2 linked regions of the Homo sapiens genome follow. Each later gene encodes a partner of the first gene's protein in a complex. Each region holds a gene or a part of one and is shown on either strand. Other genes may lie near its edges.

Evidence for each region.
Region 2: the proteins of BTK (region 1) and BIRC2 are in contact, whole or in part, in a crystal structure (PDB 6W7O), measured with the Homo sapiens proteins. Residues at the interface, in NP_000052.1 of Homo sapiens: Leu483, Asn484, Arg487, Glu488, Tyr551, Ser557, Lys558, Arg562, Lys595, Met596, Tyr598, Glu599, Arg600, Phe601, Thr602, Glu605; in NP_001157.1 of Homo sapiens: Pro280, Ser281, Ser282, Asn301, Asp302, Asp303, Arg314, Cys315, Glu317, Ser318.

What each region holds. Positions count from the first base shown.
Region 1 is NC_000023.11:101,382,317-101,390,682, forward strand, and holds the start of BTK (tyrosine-protein kinase BTK), read right to left. Parts: upstream 3,876-8,366; 5' UTR 3,746-3,875; intron 1-3,745. UniProt on the Homo sapiens protein: Non-receptor tyrosine kinase indispensable for B lymphocyte development, differentiation and signaling. Binding of antigen to the B-cell antigen receptor (BCR) triggers signaling that ultimately leads to B-cell activation.
Region 2 is NC_000011.10:102,363,558-102,371,441, forward strand, and holds part of BIRC2 (baculoviral IAP repeat-containing protein 2), read left to right. Parts: intron 1-110; coding exon 111-159; intron 160-4,748; coding exon 4,749-4,991; intron 4,992-7,884. UniProt on the Homo sapiens protein: Multi-functional protein which regulates not only caspases and apoptosis, but also modulates inflammatory signaling and immunity, mitogenic kinase signaling, and cell proliferation, as well as cell invasion and metastasis.

The DNA.
Region 1 (8,366 bases):
TTATTTATTTATTTATTTATTTATTTTTGAGACAGAGTCTCGCTCTGTCATCCAGGCTTCGGTACAGTAGCGCAATCTTGGCTCACTGCAATCGCTACCTCCCAGTTTCAAGCAATTCTCTTGCCTCAGCCTCCTGAGTAGCTTGGACTACAGCCGCACACCATGACACCTGCCTCGGCCTCCCAAAATGCTGGGATTACAGGCTTGAGCCACCGCGCCTGGCCTTATGTTTTTAGCATTTTACATTTTTCTTCTGTGGTTTTGGAAACTTCTAGGTCTCTGTGATTCATCATCTCTTTTTGTCTTGCATTAGCGACAATATATTCTGGCCAACTGATGATGGAAGGAGAGCCAGAGAGCCAATCTGCAAGTTTATAGTCAGTGCCAGATCAGATCAGTGGTAATACTTTCAATATTCTCCCTCTGCTCTGAGGGTGACTGCTGGGGTGTCTGTCTTTCACTCTGGACTTGTGTGCCCTTTTGGCCTTCTTTTTCAACCTAGTTTTTGTTTTCCTTGGCTTAAACATTTTATTTATTTTTTCCATCGATATCAAAATAACACACGCAGCTGGGTGCAGTGGGGTGCACCTGTAGTCCCAGCTACTCAGGAGGCTGATATTGGAGGATTGCTTGAGCCCAAGAGTTCAAGGTCAGCCTGAGAAACATAGGGAGACCCCCATCTCAAAATAAAACAAAATATAGTAAAATAAAACATGCTTATTGTAGAAAATATGTCAAGTACAGGGATATAAAAAAGAAAAAATCATTCATAAACTCATCCAGAGGCATTAATATATCGGCATATTCCTTCCATTTTTTTCTGTGTGTGTTTCTTATAATATTTGAGATCATATTGCACATTCAGTTAATTTACCTATTTTTCGTAACATCTATGTATGTATGTATGCATGTATGTATGTATCTATCCATCCATCCATCCGTTCAAGGTACCTTTTTCCAAAAAAAGATCTAATGTTCTTATTTAACATTATTCCTAATTATTTTCCCATGTTATTAGGATCTCTATACAAGCATCATTTCCAGAGTCAAAAAAGTATGTGCATTTTGCATTTTGATACATACTGCCAAAATAGTTTCCAGAAACATTGTCCCAATTTCAGTTCCAAATAGTTTTAGAGAGCCCCCTTTCTCATTATCCTTATCTCTTTTCTGGTCCATTTCTAATCATTTTTAAAACTCTGGTTTTACTGCAGACAAATCTTTTTTTTTTTTCATTGAGTCAATGATCTTAAACTCCAGTATATTCCAACTTCCAGCTTGTCTAAAACTTAACTTCTCTTGACTCTAGAATTTCCTTCTTCTAGGGTGAGCTAACAGACTACAGTTTGTTTTCAGTTCAGGGAGGTAGGGCAGTGAGAGGAGCTTCTCCTTGAGATTCAAATAACCAATATAATCCTAAAGACATCTTGTGAGAACTTTCTAAGAGCGGAGAGAAGAGCCTGGTATTAAAGCTTCTGGGTTTCCAATGCTCTCAGATTGCCCTCAGCCACTGCACATGAATCTCCATAGAAACTGAAAGTCACACGTGGCCCAATTGTTTCAGGGTCCTCAGAGGAGTTCTCCCTCCTCCTTCCCCTCCCCAGATGGCTTCATGCATAACCAAGTAGCTTTGGAGTCAAATATGTCAAGGCCTCTTTTCTAGCTTCTTGCTGAGCACTGTGTCACTGAAAATTCTAGTTCTTCCTTATTTTCAGTAGTTAGCAATCAGATCTCAGCAATCAGATCATTGTGGGTGTAGAAGGGGGTATCTGATAACTCTTTGGAGAACGCCCAAACTTTGGTTTTCGAAAGCTGTATCTTCCCTTTATACCTAAGTCACTTCCTGATATGGGTCTAGTCCACTGAAAGGAAACTCTATAGGAAATTTGCTCAAATGGAAATAGCAAATCATAGTGATAATTTAAAATTGCACCAATCCCCCATAACTGGATGGAAAGTTACATTAGTTCGCACCATAAGGAGTTTACAAAGAATTCCAGGGTGGGTGCGGTGGCTCACGCCTGTAATCCTAGCACTTTGGGAGGCCCAAGCAGGCAGATCACCTGAGGTTGGGAGTTCGAGACCAGCCTGACCAACATGGAGAAACCCCGTCTCTACTAGAAATACAAAATTAGCTGGGCGTGGTGGCACATGCCTGTAATCCCAGCTACTTGGGAGGCTGAGGCAGGAGAATTGTTTGAACCCGGGAGGCGGAGGTTGCGGTGAGCTGAGATCCCGAGATCGTGCCATTGCACTCCAGCCTGGGCAGCAAGAGTGAAACTCCGTGTCAAAAAAAAAAAAAAAAAATTCCAAACAAAAATATCAATAGCCATACGCAATGGAAATTTGGACTTCAACACAAGCAAGCAGTTTAAATAGTTTGAATATAAAAGGAGTCAGAATAGACAGGACAAGCCCTAAGGGACACTGTTTGGGTATAATGCTTTAGGTTGCCATGAGTATTTGCATTTTGTGGCTTATTTGGAAAGTGACATTATTTTATCAAATAACTGAGGCTCCAGAGAGGCTGGAGTCTGGGCAACTTATCCAAGGATGTCTTGATTGGGGTCACCAATCACTTTTATTCTAAATGTCATATTATTTGCTCTAGGTAGGCCCTCTGGGGGACATTGGCAGGTCTGAGGCAGAGTAAAAATTATAGCAAATACTGAGATCCAGCACTTACTATTGCCAGGCCCTGTTTTAAAAGCTTTACATGTATTTGCACATTTACTGCTCACAACCACCTTATGGGGAAGGTGCTAGGCAGGCAGGGAGGAGGAAATGGAAAGGGAAAGGAAAAGGGAAAAGAGCGGGGGAAGAAAGGAGCAAGAAAAAGTCAATGCAATTCGGCAATTATTTGTTAAGTGCTAACTGTATGTCAGGGTCTGGTAATCAACAGAACAGAGGAGGGTATAATGAAGAGGGGATATAGGTAGAGAAAAGAGGATGAGTGGGAAGAGGAGGAGGTTGGAGAGGAGGAAAGGAAAGGAGAAATAATGAAGACAAGAGAAAAGCAAGCCATGCACATGGAGGGCAATGGTAAGAGGAGAAACCTTTGCCACAACCTCAAGGGTTGGCCGCACTGTCTGGGCTGAGGCAGAGGCTGCTTTCTCCTGGCCCAGTCTTTTACCCATTGTTACCACGAGGTTGGCACAGCTTCCACACAGTCCTTTAATAAGCCAGCTCTGACCCTGGCGACATTTGGCCTGGTACAGCTCAAGGCAGGTAGCCTACACCCTGGCCTAGCCAGGCCTTTCCCTAGCTCACAAAGGTCAACTTCATAACGTGGAGCGTGAGCTTTTACCATGTTCTCAGAGAATCTGCCTCTTAGTATTTCTTTTTCTAAAGGCTTCATTGACCCATGTATCCCTATTGAGTCTTCAAGCACTATTTGACAGAAGGGCTTGTTTTTATCTGACTGCTCCCTGCAATATTACTTTTCCACTAAGTTTGCCAGAGGTACCCCTTTCTAACATTTGCTACCTGTTCGGATGGTCACCTCATGTCACATTTTTCTCTTCCTGTTCCGCCCACCCTCAGCCCTTGTCGGAAAGGACCCTTTCGGCCTCTCTAATCACCAGAAGGGACTGCCAGGGCCTTGTGCTGATGACACTCCCACCCTCCGTCAGCCTCCTCCACTAGCTGATAAATGGCACCAGCCATGCTGTCTCTCTGGTTTTTAGGGGTCCCAAGCAAGGTACATTGCTGCTGCTGCCCAGCCCCTGCCATACCCCAGACCCACCTCAGTCCTGACTTAATGCAGGTAGCTTCCCAGATGCATTGAGATGCCAGGACTTGGAAGGTGGGACTCGATCGCAGCAGACACTGGCCCTGGAGACATATTCTTACAGTCCAGAGAGGAAGGACAGTCTGAGCAAACCCCACCCTTTCACAGCCACTCAGTTCCCTTTTTTTGCTTCCTGACCTAAACCAATGTCTTTTTTTCTTCTCAGCAGCATGCTATCTGGTTCCCTGCTGCCGTCCCTATTCCACCCCCTCAACTGTCCCCGCCCTTCATTTGCTTGGGACCTCTGACACTACTATCTTGAGTCTATCTTTGAAAGAACCTTTCTCAACATGACTGGGGCCACTGAGACTCTAGATGGGGCTGGCCTGAGCAGACAGGTCATCAAGCTATCCTCCCAGAGGTAAAGGGACAACATACCTAAAGTACTATGAAGACAGTCAGCACAGGGAGAGGGGCTTACAGGAAAGAGGAGAGATGCTGGGGGCTGGCAGACACAGAGCAAAGAGACTGGCCAGGAAGAGCGTTTTTCGAGTCTCCTGTCCTCCGGGGCAGAGGAGTCTCAGGGACACACAGTTGAACTTGATAGTGAAGGGACCCCAAAGGACAAAACAAGACAGAGGTAGAGACAAGACTTCCCCGTGCTGAGTCATTTTCTAAGAAAGCATTTTTCCCCTACAGATAAAAATGTCGGAATATAAGCCCACAGAAATACTTGTGCCCTTCCCCATTTTCTGTGGATGTTGACTTTCTCCATTTAAGATTTGGCCTCAGGGATTAACTCTCAATGTCCACCTTTCTCTTGAGTCCTGTAAACCGGTAAAGCAGACTAGGTATGTCACTTGAAGCCTGGAGGTTTTCTCAGGGGCCCCCTACATTATGCTCCAACTGCAATGATTCCCCCAGGGATTCTCCTAGGAAATGCAGCCAGTATTGAATGCAGACCATGATGGTGGAGCCCCTGCTGACTGATCTGCCTGCCCACCTTGACACCTCGGGCACTGCCATATTTCCTTGCCCCAAGGCACTGTATCCTAATGTAGAAACAGATCACAGGTCCCACTACAATTTCATCCGAAGTTTTAAGTCAACAGGACCTTATTTTTTTTTCTTTATTTTGTCTAAAAAACAAACAAACAAGCAAACAAAAAAAATGGGGTATATGTGCAGAAGGTGCAAGTTTGTTACATAGGTATATGTGTGACATGGTGATTTGCTGCACCTATTGACCCATCCTCTAAGATCCCTCCCCTCACCCCCAAGCCCCAACAGGCCCTGGGACCTTTTTTTTTTTTTTTTTTTTTTGAGACAGGGTCTTGCTCTGAAGCCCAGGTTGGAGTGCAGTGGCGTGATCATGGCTCACTGCAGCCTCCACCTCCTGGGCTCAAGTGATCCTCTCACCTCAGTCACCCTAGTACCTGGGACTATAGGCACACATCACTGTGCTGGGCTAATTTTTCTACTTTTTGTAGAGATGGGGTTTCACTATGTTGCCCAGGCTGGTCTCAAACTCCTGGGCTCAAGCGATACTCCTGCCTTGGCCTCCCAAAATGCAGGGATTACAGGAGTGAGCCACCTCTCCCAGCCATCAACAGGACTTTAAATAAAAACATTTAAAGTATTTGTAGACTGATGATAGAGTGGTTGATACTCACATTTGCACAAGACAGATGGACAGCATGTGTTGTATGATTGCCTTACTTTATTGACAACGTCTATCCTTTCGCTAGTCACCCCCAATAGCTGTTCCACTCACCTGCCTGAGGGTTGGCCACAGGCATTCATCTTCCCTCCTCTTTTCTTCAGTTTTTTTTTTTTTTGAGACGGAGTCTTGCCCTGTCGCCCAGGCTGGAGTGCAGTGGCATGATCTCGGCTCACTGCAAGCTCCACCTCCCGGGTTCACGCCATTGTCCTGCCTCAGTCTCCTGAGTAGTTGGGACTACAGGTGCCTGCCACCACGCCTGGCTAATTTTTTGTATTTTTAGTAGAGACGGGGTTTCACCATGTTAGCCAGGATGGTCTCGATCTCCTGACCTCGTGATCCACCCGCCTCAGCTTCCCAAAGTGCTGGGATTACATGCGTGAGCCACCGTGCCCAGGCTCTTTTCTTCAGTCTTATGCCACTTGTTGTCACATGCCCTGTCCTTTCTCAAGATCCATCTTGGGGTGGGGACTGGGAGGTGATAGGCATCCAATGGGAGAGCTAAACAAGAGAGAGAGAGGAGCACAAGGGAAAAGAGCAAGTAGACGTAGGCTTTTCTTCACCCTCTGCCCACGACCACTCCCCTAGCACACTCATCCATACTGACAGAAAGACTGTACTCAGATAGTGCAAATAAACAGCTGAGTGTCACCTGAAGAGATTCCCAATGCAATATAAGGTTCTATTCTTGGTGCTATCCTGTTCAGCATTTTTATTGATCATCTTTGAGGAAAATATAAAAAGTAGCCCGGTTAGTCTATGAATGGTGCAAGGCTTTGTGTGCTAGACTGGATGACAGAAGAGGGCAATTAGTTCCCAAAAAGATCTTGATCACCTGGTGTGAGAAGCCAAATTCCACAAAGTGTATTTTACCAGGGCTAAAGGTGATGTCTCATAATTGGGCCCCAAATTTGAACTTCAAATGACTCCAGGAGAAAGTGGAGTAGCAGTAGCATTTGTGAAAATGGTTCAGGGGTTTTTGCTGATAGTAATCAAAAGGCATGTCATCAGTTAACATGGCTTCCAGAAAAGCCAAGGTGACATTGAGGCTTCCTTATGGAAGTAAAATATCTAGACAGAGGAAGGTAACATGCCACTTACTCTGCAAAGCCAGACCACACCTAGAGTCCTGCATTCAGTTCTGAGTGCCTCGTCTTAGGGGAAATTAATGAGCAGGAGCATGTCCAAAACAGAGAACAGCTCAAGCGATCCTCCCACCTCGGTGTCAGCATTGGTGTACAAACTTTCACTTATAGGATGTATAAGCTCTGGGGATCTAATGTGCAATATAGTGACCATAGTTAATAATACTGTATTATTGAAATTTGATAAGAGAGCAGATTTTAAGTGTCCTCACCACCCCCATGGTAACTATGGATGGTGATGGATGATAGATGTGTTAATCAATTTGACTGTGGTAATCATTACACAGTGTATACACATATCAAATCATCATGTTGTACACCTTGAATATAAACAATTTTTGTCAATTAAATATTTTTAAGTAAACAAAAACAAGCAAAACCCCCACAAAGCCACATAACACCAGATATGATAGAAAGAACTAAGGTTGATTAAATGAAGAGGGGCCATGTTCACGGTCTTCATATTTCCATGTTACTAACATAAACCCCTAAAGGCCAGTGAGATTGCTTAAGAATCTGGAAAGAAAAAGAAAATGCTGGAAGTTTGGCAAAGAAATTTTCAGGAAATGTAGCAGGTAGTGGTAATATATTTATTATCTCATTCCCAGAGACCACCCAACAAAAAAGGGGGTGATCAGAGTGTCAGCTCAGGTCCCACGCGTGTTCCTGGAGGGTTGTGCAAGCAAGATACCCCAGACTCTCACGGTTCTTCAGCCCCTATTCCACTGCCACCTCCTCCTGTGTCTCAGCCCAATTCTGTCTCCTCACCATCCTCTACACTGCAGATGCCCCTGCTTCCTTTGTATGATGTAGTGGTTAAGTGCAAGGCTATAGTGTTAGACTACCTAGGATCAAATTCCAGCTCCACAAAAAAATAACAACCTGTGTGACTTCAGGTAAGTAAACTTAACATCTCTTGTGCCTCAGTTTCCTCACCTGTTAAATACTAATACTGGTATATACCTCCTGGGGTTGCTGTCAGGATTAAAAGGGGTAGTATGTAAGGTGGTTAGGAGAATGCCTGGCATATAGTAAGTGCGCCATAATTTTTTTAGCTATTATAATTACCAGGCCACAACAGCAATATTTTATAATGTTAAAGGAACGCGGGCTCTAGAGTCAGTCTACTTGGGTTTGTATCCTAGATTCACTAAATACCGTTGACATTGGGCAAATCGTTTAACATCCTACAGCCTCAATTTCTTAATCTGTAAAATGAGAATAATAGTACCACCTGTCTCCTAGAATTATTGTGAGAATTGTATGACACAATCTATTTAAAATGTTTAGCACCCTGAAGTCTTTCTATGCTGGACTCTCTTGAGACCTAGTATATGCCTTCTGCCAGGTTTGCAAGGAAGGGAAGAGCCGCTAGGTACTTTCTACTTCTAGGCTTGATGATTGCTATTACAGGAGCCAAACAATTTCATTGTCACTTTTCAGAACCTAGAGCTGCTGACTTACTCCCTCAACAGAAGGGTGCTGCTTTAATGCCAATCATTGTTCCTTTTCTTCAAAGTACTTAGTTCATAATTGCACATTTATAAGCCTATTAGATTACTGTACCTCTCCCCCGGAACAGTGCCTGCCACATAATGGGCATCCAATAACCATTTGTTGAATGGACCAACTGGCCATGTGATAGATGAACTGGAACAATTGGCTCCCTCCAGGTCTTCATTGAATTAGCAGTTTGCTGCGAAAGGTGTTCCCAGTGACCTTGAGGTGGAACAGGAATGGAACGTGGAGGTGGAGGACCCCTTCATTCGAC
Region 2 (7,884 bases), on another chromosome or scaffold:
TTCTCAAAAGAACATATACATTTACTTAAAGTAAGCTTATTTTAGTGTTGTTCTTTTCAGATTGTTGGGGATATCTGCTTTTACCTATTAACTTTTCTCTTGTTTCATAGCTGTTGTCAACTTCAGATACCACTGGAGAAGAAAATGCTGACCCACCAAGTATGTATGAGATAATTTTAAGTATAGAGTGTAAATTTTTATAAGAATTTTAGGAATAGGCTGGGTGCAGTGGCTCATGCCTGTAATCCCAACACTTTGAGAGGCCGAGGTTGACAGATCACCTGAGGTCAGGAGTTCGAGACCAGCCTGGCCAACATAGTAAAACTCCATCTACTAAAAATACAAAACTTAGCCGGGTGTGATGTGCCTGTAGTCTCAGCTACTCGGGAGGCTGAGGCAGGAGAATTGCTTGAACCCAGGAGGTGGAGGTTGCAGTGAACTGAGATTATGCCATTGCACTCCATCCTGGGCAACAGAGCGAAACTCCATCTCCAAAAAAAAAGGTAGGAATGAAAGTATGTATTTTTTAAAAGAGTTTCTGAAGCCATAGGGAAAAATACTGGGAAGTCAGCTAATAAATATTATATATATATATATATATATATATATATATATATACACACACACACAGAGAGAGAGAGAGAGAGAGAGAGAGAGAGTGTAATGACACTGTGGAGGACCCTAAAAGTGTACTAGTTTTTGTTCTAGTGCTATACTTATCACTTTTAGTGCTGACATTCCAACTGGAGAAATGAGACATAAGCAAAAGAAAAACAAAAAATAGTTCAAAGCAATGCCAAATAAGCGGTGCAAATAATAAACCCTCCAGAAAAGAAGAGTTTGCTGTGAGTTGGCATGATTTGGAAAACGTCAATTCACATATGATTCAAGAATTGGACTAGATGTTAGGTATTTAAGTCAGGTATGTTGTATTTCAGTGCAAGGGCAGGAAATAGTATAGCTTTTGATTAGAGCTTAATGTTAGCCACATCTGTCAATTTATGTAATATACATATGTTATTGTGTCTAAAATGGCTAAGGTAGTAATCCCGTTTTATGTGCCAATCACATCTACAAAGGGCCATTCTGTTTGTGGCACAGCATTTCAAGAAAGATTGGCAGATTTGTTAACTGGACCAGAGAAAGGTGACCAAGATGTATGAGTCTTAGAAACCATGGCTCAGGAGGATTGGATGAAGGATTTGGTAGTATTTGACTGGAAAATAGGAAGGAGAGTACTGGAAAATAGGAAGGAGAGTACCTGGGTACATGACAACTATCTCCCGTGTAATAGACCTAGAAAAGATAGATAGCAGTGTGGGCTGTTCTTAAAATTTATAACCACTGCTATTAAGTAGGCTGCCCTGCAGTTCTACCATAGGTCCTAATAAAATCACTTTGTCAATCTTTAAAATGACTGTTTCTTGTTTTCTGTCTTGATAATTTTCTAACACTCTCTTCCCACCTTACTGTCAGTTTATAATCTTGCTTCCCTAAGAAAATAGAATCCAAAAGAGAGCTGCTTTATTGCCTCACCAGCAAAACCACTAGGCTACATAATTTATCCTTGTACTTTTCTGTTTGTTCATAAAAGATGAATTGTCCTTGCCCTTTTCTAAGGCCATTACTTCTACTTGTCCTCTGTATTCCATCCCCTACTGTCAACTTAAGAAGGTTACTTTGGCAGTGACATACCCTTTCTCTCGAGTCTTCAATTTTTCCACCTCTCCTGAATCACTCATGTTAGCATATAAACATAATGTACTTTTGCTAATCCTAGGAAAATTTCCATGAATGAATGTCCCCATTCAGCTATTACCTTATTACTCTGCTTCCCTTTACAACAAAATACCTAGGAAGATTTATCTGTGCTTAACTCTGTTTTACTTCCTCACCTTTCATTCTTTCACTTGTTCTGCTAGAAACTGTTCTTGTCATGGTAACCAGGGACTGCCGTGTTAGCAAATCCACTACTTGACCTGTTAATTAGCATTTGATAATCACTGGGTGCTTTGTCGTTGTTTTTTCTTTTTGTGAAACAAGGTCTCACTTTGTCACCCAGGCTGTAGTGTGGTTAGGTGCCATCATGGCTCACTGCAGCCTTAACTTCCCTGGCTCAGGTGATTCTCTCACCTCAGCCTCCCAAGTAGCTGGGACTACAGGCATGCACCATCACATTCAGCTAAGTGTGTGTGTGTGTGTGTGTGTGTGTGTTTGTAGATACAGGGTTTCACCATGTTGCCCAGGCTGGTCTCAAACTCTTGAGCTTAAGCAATCTGCCTGCCTCGGCCTCCCATAGTGCTGGGATTGCAGGCATGAGCCACTGCATTTGGCCTCATCTTTCTTAAGACACATTTTTTGCTTGACTTATCAGACCCCATACTCTTGGTTTTCTATTTCCCTGGTTGGTCCTGAACAATTTCCTTTGTTGGCTGCTCCTTTTTCAAACTTCAAAATGTTGGAGTACCCCTCATAGCTCAGCTTAAATTTATTTCTCCATTTCCTGAGCCCCAAGCTGGAATGTCCAGCTAACTGTTTAAATCTCTACTTGGCTGTAACAGACATTGTAGAGTTAATATGACCAAACCGGAAATTTTCTTCCCCATTCTTCATCCCTCAGATTTGTTCCTTCTTTGGTCTTCCCCATCTCAGTTAATGGTACTCATTTCCCAGCATTAAAAGTTGGCTCAAGTTAGGCATCATCTCTGATTCCTCTCCTTCCTTTAGTTTGTATATTTAATCTATCAGAAGTCTTTTCATTTCTGTCTTCATAACATATGCCAAATCTGACTACATCTCACCATCTCCACCACTGTTTTTTTTTTTTGAGATGGAGTCTTGCTCTGTTGCCCAGGCTGGAGTGCAGTGGCGCAATTTTGGCTCACTGGAAGCTCCACCCGCCGGGTTCACGCCATTCTCTTGCCTCAGCCTCCCAGGTAGCTGGGACTACAGGCGCCCACCACCACGCCCGGCTAATTTTTTGTATTTTTTTTTAGTAGAGATGGGGTTTCACTGGATTAGCCAGGATGGTCTCGATCTCCTCACCTCATGATCCGCCCGCCTTGGCTCCCAAAGTGCTGGGATTACAGGCATGAGCCACCATGCCCGGCCCTCCACCACTATTAACCTAATCCAAACTACCGTCATCTGTGTCTAACATCCTAACAAGTCTTCCTGATTCTGGTTTACCCCATTAAAGTAACATCTCCACCGAGCTGCCAGAGTCATCTTCTGAAAACACAAGTCAAGTTTTATCAGTTGCATGCTTGAAACACTCCTAGAATATTCTACCAAACTTAGAATAAAATATAAACTCTTAGGAAGCCTCTGCTTATCTGGGCATTGTCCTCCTTTTTTTACCTTCTACCACCTTCTTTCTGTTTCTTGATCATGTCAAGCTTTTCCCTCAATTTAAGGTTTTTACACTTGCTGTTCTCTTTGCTTAGAAGACTTCTTTGAGATATTTCCATAGCTCACTCCTTTTTCCCCCCAGTATTAATAATTTTACATGTAATAGATGTATACATTCTTCATAAGGGAAAGAAAACTAAATGCTGTAGGCAATGCCAAATTCCCCTCTGATGCTTACATACAGTTCTGTTTCTAACTTCTAATACCCAGAGCTCAGTAGCATGGGCTAGGTATATACCAGTTTAGTTCGTTTGTATATTTTTAAATTTTTTCACAGTAGTCCAGCATATATTGCATTTTATTTATCCATTCCCTATTGAGAGCTATTCCTGTTATTTTCTGTTTTTTTTTTTCTGCTGTAAATATTGCTGTAATGATCCTCTAATGTGTCTCTTATCTTGAACATAAAGTATTTCCTCAAGGCATGCGCTTAAAAATGAAATAGAGCTCATTCCTTGTTATTTAAATCTTTGTTCTGGTGCCATTTCTTCGGACACGGATTCCACGCGTGTTTGAACAAGAGGGGACATTGTTGACGTTGTATATTTATTATAAGTTTCCAGAAGATGGCAGTAGTGTCTTGAAGAATTATGTCTTTTTGTATTTTTTCATAAAAGTATCATATGGGCTAGCATTGACTCTTAGCAGAAAATGCTTCCCTGACTACCCTATCTAAAATGACTTCCTGCTTCCTGGTTTCTTTTAATGACCTTACACTACTTTTTTCTTCAGAGCATCTGTCACTGTCTAAAATCATACTGCCTTAATTACTTCTGAAGCCATACTTTTTCACTACATCTTCTGGGTGAACTGATCTTCTATTTTACTATACTTCCCATTTTTGTTTATGTTATTCTCTCTACCTCAGCAATCCACTTGTCTAGACCCTGTCCATCCTTCAAGTCCAAACTCTAATGCGCCACTTTTCCATGAAGTCTTTGTGATTTCCCCCCACTTTCCTGGCTGGAGAAGATTATTTCTCACTTCTAAGTTCGTATAGCATATTGGTTTCCAGAAATGACTATACATCAGAATCATTTGGGAAATATTCAAAAGATACAGATTCCTAATTCTTATCCTTAGAGAATCTTTCATTAAGTAAGTCTAGGATGTAGCCAGAGAGGTGGGTTTTGTAAAAAGTATAGCATATTAATTGTATTCTCATTTGACCATTATGAAGTTCAAACTTTTATTGGAGTTATAGGTAATCGATGCATATAGCTCATCTCCTTTACCAGAATATGAGAGTAAAGGATGAATAAAGATTGTGCCATGATACTTTTTTCCATAGGTTTATGTTTGTGGAATTTAATATTAGCATGTTTCTTTTCAAATAGTTATTCATTTTGGACCTGGAGAAAGTTCTTCAGAAGATGCTGTCATGATGAATACACCTGTGGTTAAATCTGCCTTGGAAATGGGCTTTAATAGAGACCTGGTGAAACAAACAGTTCAAAGTAAAATCCTGACAACTGGAGAGAACTATAAAACAGTTAATGATATTGTGTCAGCACTTCTTAATGCTGAAGATGAAAAAAGAGAAGAGGAGAAGGAAAAACAAGCTGAAGAAATGGCATCAGGTATTTGGGGATGTTAGTCACCTGCATTGTTTCTCAGTGGAGCTCTTAGGACTGTCTCACATGTTACAGGACACCATGCTTGTTTCACATCCACTAACTGCTGGTAGCAGTCCTCCAGTCATTTCGAAACCATCCCTCCTTTTCTACCCCTTTCAATTGCTTCTAGTTGAGAACCATTGACTGCCGCTTTTTTCTATACATTTATTTTCGGATGAGGTTCTCTGATTTATGCCAATCAGAGAATTTTAGCATAATAAGCTCTTTCTTGAGCTGTATTCCATTTCTTTCTCATACATAACAAATTTAAATTGTTTTGAAAAAGCAAGATGTTAAAGTTGGATGCAGGTCTTTTTTCAACCTGTTTTTTTTTTTAAGTTTCTGCAAATCATATTTTTAATAGGATACTTTACTCCCTAATCCTTGCTAAGTGATCCTCATACACAAAATAGAACTTACAATGAAATTCTGGGGCTTGATGAGAACCACCTGCCCAATCCAAGGATAACAGGAAAACTGATTTTTGTATTCGTCCAGATAGTATTAAGTCTCGGCCTCTCAAAACAAGTATTTTGAGTAATCATTTATTCCTTCAATAAATTTTTTTTTTTCTTTTTTCTATTTTTTTTTAATTATACTTTAAGTTTTAGGGTACATGTGCACATTGTGCAGGTTAGTTACATATGTATACATGTGCCATGCTGGTGCGCTGCACCCACTAACTCATCATCTAGCATTAGGTATATCTCCCAATGCTATCCCTCCCCCCTCCCCCCACCCCACCACAGTCCCCAGAGTGTGATATTCCCCTTCCTGTGTCCATGTGATCTCATTGTTCAGTTCCCACCTATGAGTGAGAATATGCGGTGTTTGGTTTTTCGTTCTTGCGATAGTTTACTGAGAATGATGATTTCCAATTTCATCCATGTCCCTACAAAGGACACGAACTCATCATTTTTTATGGCTGCATAGTATTCCATGGTGTATATGTGCCACATTTTCTTAATCCGGTCTATCATTGTTGGACATTTGGGTTGGTTCCAAGTCTTTGCTATTGTGAATAATGCCGCAATAAACATACGTGTGCATGTGTCTTTATAGCAGCATGATTTATAGTCATTTGGGTATATACCCAGTAATGGGATGGCTGGGTCAAATGGTATTTCTAGTTCTAGATCCCTGAGGAATCGCCACACTGACTTCCACAATGCTTGAACTAGTTTACAGTCCCACCAACAGTGTAAAAGTGTTCCTATTTCTCCACATCCTCTCCAGCACCTGTTGTTTCCTGACTTTTTAATGATTGCCATTCTAACTGGTGTGAGATGGTATCTCATTGTGGTTTTGATTTGCATTTCTCTGATGGCCAGTGATGATGAGCATTTTTTCATGTGTTTTTTGGCTGCATAAATGTCTTCTTTTGAGAAGTGCCTGTTCATGTCCTTTGCCCACTTTTTGATGGGGTTGTTTGTTTTTGTCTTGTAAATTTGTTTGAGTTCATTGTAGATTCTGGTTATTAGCCCTTTGTCAGATGAGTAGGTTGCGAAAATTTTCTCCCATTTTGTAGGTTGCCTGTTCACTCTGATGGTAGTTTCTTTTGCTGTGCAGAAGCTCTTTAGTTGAATTAGATCCCATTTGTCAATTTTGGCTTTTGTTGCCATTGCTTTTGGTGTTTTGGACATGAAGTCCTTGCCCATGCCTATGTCCTGAATGGTAATGCCTAGGTTTTCTTCTAGGGTTTTTATGGTTTTAGGTCTAACATTTAAATCTTTAATCCATCTTGAATTGATTTTTGTATAAGGTGTAAGGAAGGGATCCAGTTTCAGCTTTCTACATATGGCTAGCCAGTTTTCCCAGCACCATTTATTAAATAGGGAATCCTTTCCCCATTGCTTGTTTTTCTCAGGTTTGTCAAAGATCAGATAGTTATAGATACGCGGTGTTATTTCTGAGGGCTCTGTTCTGTTCCATTGATCTATATCTCTGTTTTTGTACCAGTACCATGCTGTTTTGGTTACTGTAGCCTTGTAGTATAGTTTGAAGTCAGGTAGTGTGATGCCTCCAGCTTTGTTCTTTTGGCTTAGGATTGACTTGGCAATGCGGGCTCTTTTTTGGTTCCATATGAACTTTAAAGTAGTTTTTTCCAATTCTGTGAAGAAAGTCATTGGTAGCTTGATGGGGATGACATTGAATCTGTAAATTACCTTGGGCAGTATGGCCATTTTCACGATATTGATTCTTCCTACCCATGAGCATGGAATATTCTTCCATTTGTTTGTATCCTCTTTTATTTCCTTGAGCAGTGGTTTGTAGTTCTCCTTGAAGAGGTCCTTCACATCCCTTGTAAGTTGGATTCCTAGGTATTTTATTCTCTTTGAAGCAATTGTGAATGGGAGTTCACTCATGATTTGGCTCTCTGTTTGTCTGTTGTTGGTGTATAAGAATGCTTGTGATTTTTGTACATTGATTTTGTATCCTGAGACTTTGCTGAAGTTGCTTATCAGCTTAAGGAGATTTTGGGCTGAGACAATGGGGTTTTCTAGATATACAATCATGTCGTCTGCAAACAGGGACAATTTGACTTCCTCTTTTCCTAATTGAATACCCTTTATTTCCTTCTCCTGCCTAATTGCCCTGGCCAGAACTTCCAACACTATGTTGAATAGGAGTGGTGAGAGAGGGCATCCCTGTCTTGTGCCCGTTTTCAAAGGGAATGCTTCCAGTTTTTGCCCATTCAGTATGATATTGGCTGTGGGTTTGTCATAGATAGCTCTTATTATTTTGAAATAGGTCCCATCAATACCTAATTTATTGAGAGTTTTTAGCATGAAGGGTTGTTGAATTTTGTCAAAGGCTTTTTCTGCATCTATTGAGATAATCATGTGGTTTTTGTCTT